Linked DNA regions of Homo sapiens: region 2 is linked to region 1. The links come from fine-mapping of genetic effects on gene expression. A gene starts in region 1. The other region holds a variant in brackets. All regions are shown on one strand. Distances are between the middles of the regions. Region 1 holds the start of BMAL1 (basic helix-loop-helix ARNT like 1). Region 2 holds the start of LINC00958 (long intergenic non-protein coding RNA 958).

Region 1 (2,906 bases):
GTATACGGGTAGTGTCAAGAAAAGCTTGTTCACAAATACGGAATCTGATTTTTGGAAGCTGGGTGAGAAAACTTGGCTAATAATTCCTCGCTGAGGAGTAGCGGTGGAAGAAGGAAGAGACCGCAAGCGCCAAAGCGCCAAAACAACGCTAGGTGACCGGGAAGGGGCCGAGGCGGAGAGGGGAGAGGGGTCAGGAGGTGCGGGGTGCGCGGCGGCAGCGGGTCTCTCACCGGCCGGCGAGAACTTGACAGCAGGCGCCGGTGTCCAGCACTCCCCTTCCCTCCCCAGCTCCTGCCGGCGGGCACCTGAGCTCACCCCGCTGCCGGCTCTCGCGACCCCTCGGGGAGGCTAACATGCGCCCCACAAGGTCGACGTTCACCTCTACCTTCCTCGTCTTCTTCCAAGCAAACGGGAAGCTCTCTGGGATGTCAACGCCCGGCAATAGCCGAGCGGGAACCTTTTCTTCCCTGACATCTGTCAAACCCGGAGCTGGAGCCAGGCTCGCTGCGCCCTCCGCGGAGCTCTGGGACTCCAAGGCCGGCCCGCACCCGGGCTCCGGGCGACATCCCCAGGCCGACGCGCACCTGCCCGCAGACCCACGGGGCATCCTTGAGGGCCGCCCAGGACCTGGACGGCACAGGCCCCACGAAAGTTCGCAGGCTGGGGTCGGCCCCGTGCCGGCCGGGGATTCCCGGGTGCAGCGCCAGCCCTGGCTACAGGGCCGAAGGGGCGGGCGGACTTGGACTCCCCAAGCCCGACGGAGACGCCCTCCCCGCCCCCACCCAGCCTCGCGGGCTCCCGAAAGGGAAGTGAAGCGGGGAGGAAGGGCAGACGCGGCACCGTTCGCCCAACGCCCTTGAGGGGCAGCCACCAGGCATGGTCCCCTCGGGGATCCCCGAAGCTCCCGGGGACACATCTAGGAGTCCTCTTCGGCCGAGTCACTGCCCCCAAGGGCAGAGCTATCCCTTTAAGAGGCAGCTAGCTGCCCCCTCCCCCCGCCAGGTAGCGATGCCCGCGGAAGGGCGGTGGGTACTCCAGCGAACACTTTCCCGGCCCCTTTAAGGGCTCCTGCAGCACCTCTGCCTGCCCTAGCCCGCAGCGGCAGCCCCCGCGAGGAGGATGGGGGCGGACGGGCGCGGCGCCTTTAAGGGGCGCAGCCTCCCCACGGCCCGGGTGGGGGCAGGGAGCGGTCACGGGCCCTTTAAGGCCGGCAGCGGGCACGTCGGGCAGGGTTCTTCGGCGGCCGGGTTGCCCCCGGGGCGGCGGCAGGGGCGCAGCGCCCGCGAGGGTGCTAACGGCCCCCGACGGGGTGCGCGGGATCGCGTCGCTGGCCGCCGCCGGCCTGACACTCACCGTGGCTCGCCGGGAGCGCCCGCGCCCGCGCCCGCACTCGGATCCCGCGGCGGCGGCGGCGGTGAGTCCGGCGCGGGTAAACAGGCACCTCCGTCCCTGACCTACTTTCTGCCTTCCCTAAATGTCGCACCACTAACCTACTTTCCGACCAATCCGCTCCCCGCCGGCCCAGGCCCGGCCCCCCGCCCACCAATCGCTGTGCCCAACCCCCCTTCCCCGCCCACCAATGGAGGAGCCGCAGCGCCCGGATACCTGCCTCTTCCCGCCAGCCAATCCGAACGCCCGAAGGGAGCCGGTCCCGGCGGCCGCCCCCAGCCAATCCGCGCGCGGCTCGGCAGCCCGCTGGCCAGTTGTGTGGCGGCTAGAGAGGCCGCTGACCAATGGCGAGGCGGCGGGAGCCGGTTTACCTGCTACTTTCCTGCCACCAATCATTTGGCGCACAGGAGCGCACGCCCCGAGGAGAGGACCAATCCGCGCGCGCTCCCTGGGTTCCTCGCCCCTGCCCTCTCCCTTTCCCCTCAGGTCTCCCACTAGCCGCGGCCACTGCGGTGCCCAAGCCGCGCTCCTCGGGGTCGCCCGGGATGTCCCTCTTCTCTGGGTCCCCTGCCGGCTGGCGTTTGGCCGCCCGCCCTCACCCCTCCTCCTTCTTCTTCTCCCCTCCGGGCATTCCGACGAAAAGCAGCAGTTCCTGACTCCCTCTCTCCCTCCGGCTCCATCTAGGAAACCAATTTTAGGAACGTTGAGTGCCAGACCCTTCCTAAAATCCCTGGTTTGCCAAAGTCTCAACGAGAGAACGGATACTTAGTATTTCTAGAAGGCATTTCCACCCCGAGGACTGCAAGTGTTCTCACGTTCTTTGCGTTCATCATGACCTCCAAGTGTCCCACTGGAGCTGTCATTCCCGTAGTTCCAAAGAGAATACTCGAGCGCGGAGCGATTCCATTGCATTTCCTTCCAGTAGCCAGGTTTTGACCACTTACTGAAGAGTAGACACCAGCCCCGCGGCAGCGCTCTCTGCTGCAAAAAGCTGTCTACGGAGCAAGACGGAAGGAAACAGTTACAGAAAATAAAAATTTGATAACGACATGCGACTCGGTTGCTGAGAGGACAGAGAAAGTGACTTATTTTTGCATCTCAGGCACTTTGTAGAGGGCCTTTAGCACAAAGAACTCCCGGCTCTTCCAGATGTTAAACTCCCTGAATAGAAGGACAGCGTCTTCTTTTTCGTTATCCATCATGTCAGCTCTCCTTTAGCGCCTGCTGGGGTAGGGTGGAGTGGTGGGGGCGGGGCTGGCACCCAACAAGTGCACCATAAATATCTGTTGGCTGGATACATGAACAAATGGAATTAAATAAATTGGCCTAATTCTGTTACCCAGACTGGCCCCCGTGACTCTAGACTTCTAGCCTGGTAAGTTCCTTGAACACAGACACTGCGTTTTTTAATCTCTGTAACACCATTGCCCATCCCCAGCTCATTGACAGGCACGGAGTGCCCAATATGTGCTTGTGGTCTGAATGCTGACTGTTTTCGAGGTCAAGCAATTCCGTCG
Region 2 (2,906 bases), 290 kb after region 1:
TCCTTGGGTTGGAGAAAAACCAACATGATCATTATCTAATCATCATCATAATAATGATAATGGACATTTGTATAGCACTTGGCAGTTTACAAGTTACTTTCTTATAATAATAATTACCACTATATGGTACATTACAGTAACAAATACTTTTTAGGGCTTTACCCCGTTCCACTGTAAAAGTTGGTATTAGTGGAGGATGTAAATAGACTTATCTACATGATTAAGGAACTAGGAGGAGTGGAGGTTCAACACCAGCAGTTGGACAGCAAACATCTTAGAAGACCAGGCACATCTTCAGCCACACCCTTGGGTTCAACTTGGTGGTCTCCTGGTTGGGGTCAGGAGCAGAAGTGGGGCCATGGCCTCCACTTCCCTTCCTGGGCAATGTGCCTTTCTTTCATCACCATGGAGTCCTTGCCTTTGTTTTGTTTCTCCTTGTCATTTATTTCCATTAACATGCAGTGGTTTTTGTCCTTTCTCTTCCCGATTGTCACTTTCCTCACCTAGATAGAGAAGAACCAGCCCTCACCTAGCTCACTAGTCTGTATCAGGCTCAAATGAGGTGATGTATGTAAAAAGGTTTTGAGACGTTAAAAAGCACAGTCCAGAAATACCTGAAAGCATGTAAACTCTTACGATTTGGGGGCTTAGCAGGACCAGGAATTTGATCTCATTGCCTCCAGGTCATATCATGACCCTCTAGGATCCCTCCTCCCTGTCACACATCCCTCTATGGGCACATTGATTCCAGGATTTCCAGAGTACATCAGGGCTGAGCCGACCTCATGGCCCTCGTGGATTGTCTCTGATATGGTTTGGCTCTGCGTCCCTACCCAAATGTTATCTTGAATTATAATCCCCACATGTTAGGGAGGGACCTGGTGGGAGGTGACTCAATCGTGGTGCGGTTTGCCCCATGCTGTTCTCGTGATGATGAGTGAGTTCTCACGAGATCTGACGGCTTAAAAGTGTGGCACTTCCTACCTCACTCTCTCTCTCTCTCCTGCTGCATTGTGAAGAAACTGCTTGCTTCCCTCTCACCCTCTGCAGTTTCCTGAGGCCTCCCCAGCCATGCGGAACGGTGAGTTAATTAAACCTCCTTTCTTTATAAACTACTCCGTCTCGGGTAGTTCTTTTTTTTTTTTTTTTTTTTTGGAGACGGAGTCTCATCTGTTTCCCAGGCTGGAGTGCAATGGCGTGATCCCGGCTCAGTGCAACCGCCGCCTCCCGAGTTCAAGTGATTCTCCTGCCTCAGCCTCCCGAGTAGCTGGGATTACAGGCGCCCGACACTATGCCCAGCTAATTTTTGTATTTTTAGTAGAGATGGGATTTCACCAGGTTGGCCAGGCTCGTCTCCAACTCCTGATCTCAGCTGGTCCACCCGCCTCGGCCTCCCAAAGTACTGAGATTACAGGCGTGAGCCAACATGCCTGGCCCTCAGGTAGTCCTTTATAGCAGTGTGAAAACGGACTAATACAGTCTCCCTGGTTTCTCACAGTTTTCTTCCATTTCATTGCTCTGTCCTTGTCTCACCTGAGTTGGGTATTTCCTCAGAGAATATTAAATATTTTTGCTGTCAATCTAGAATTGTAATTAGATAAGTTGGCAGCCAAAAGAAAAGAAACTTCATGAATTATAAAGCC[C/T]GATATTAAATGAATTTTTTGAACATTTGGTAAAGTTTATACCTTGTCTGGCTTCTTTGTTCCTTTCTCAAAACAATGATTTTCTCTTTCAAATATCTTATTCTCCGTTAAATTTTCATTTACAACCAGAATGTGGCTTTTTTCCCTAGTCTGAGAGTCCTGACATCATCTTAACTAGGGAGTTTGTGGTTATTTGTAGCCAGGGACTAATGAGCAACAACAACAAAATGTCAGAAATACTTAGAGGATGAAACAGATTATTAAATTCTATTTTGTTACTAGCATGTCCATAAATTAATCTACCACCAATTTTAGCCATACATTGAAAGTCAGTAACCTTGTGAAATCCATGTAACTCAGTTTTCCAGAGAAAAAGATAATGTTTACTAAATCAATCACTGTTTGTTTGTTTGTTTGTTTATTTTAGGCCAGATGCAGTGCCTCATGCCTGTAATCCCAGCACTTTGGGAGGCTGAGGGAGGATTGCTTGAGGTAAGGAGTTCGAGACCAGCCTGGGCAATACAGTGAAACCTCATCTCTATAAAAACTTTTTTAAAATTAGCCAGGTGTGATGGTGCACACCTGTGGTCCCAGCTACATGGGAGGCTGAGCCAAGAGGATCTCTTGAGGCCAGGAGGTTGAGGCTGTAGTGAACTATGTTCATACCACTGCACTCTAGCCTGGGTAACAGAGTGACACCATCTCAAAAGAAAAATTTTGATGAGAATTATTGGAATAAATCTGTTAGTTATGATACATATGGAGAGAGAGGGGGAGAGAGATAATTGATTATTGGATTCTCTTTGTTTTAGAATTTTATTTATTTATTGACAGAGTCTCACTTTGTCACCCAGGCTGGAGTGCAGTAGTGCGATCTTGGCTCACTGCAACCTCCATCTCCTGGGTGCAAGCGATTCTCCTGCCTCAGCATCACAAGAGCTGAGATTACAGGCGCACACCACCACGCCCGGCTAATTTTTTGTATTTTTAGTAGAGACGGGGTTTCACTATGTTGGCCAGGCTGGTCTTGAACTCCTGATCTCTAGTGATCTACCCACCTCAGTCTCCCAAAGTGCTGGGATTACAAGTGTGAACCACTGTGCCCGACCAGTTTTAGAATTTTAAATGTAGTTATAAATAAAATGGGTTCTTGCCTAATTTTGATACCAAGTTAATTCCTTTTTAACAGAAATATTTTTTAATATAGTGTACTTGTACTTTCTAGCCTACAAACAAATTTTATTTGAAATTTTTAAAAAGCAA

The links. PIP is the estimated chance that this variant, and not a neighbour inherited with it, causes the effect. A credible set is the group of variants that fine-mapping cannot tell apart.
Region 2: its variant is the best candidate, but not a certain one, in a credible set for the expression of BMAL1 in whole blood (INTERVAL, PIP 0.77).

The regions. Positions count from the first base shown.
Region 1 is chr11:13,276,371-13,279,276 of GRCh38, reverse strand. BMAL1 (basic helix-loop-helix ARNT like 1) reads right to left here and starts at 1,487. Exons shown (of 20, transcript NM_001297719.2): 1 at 1,354-1,487. RefSeq lists silencers at 477-816, 1,097-1,166, 1,237-1,886.
Region 2 is chr11:12,987,631-12,990,536 of GRCh38, reverse strand. It overlaps LINC00958 (long intergenic non-protein coding RNA 958), which reads left to right and starts at 989. Exons shown (of 2, transcript NR_038904.1): 1 at 989-1,081. The variant C/T (reference allele first, on the strand shown) is at 1,644.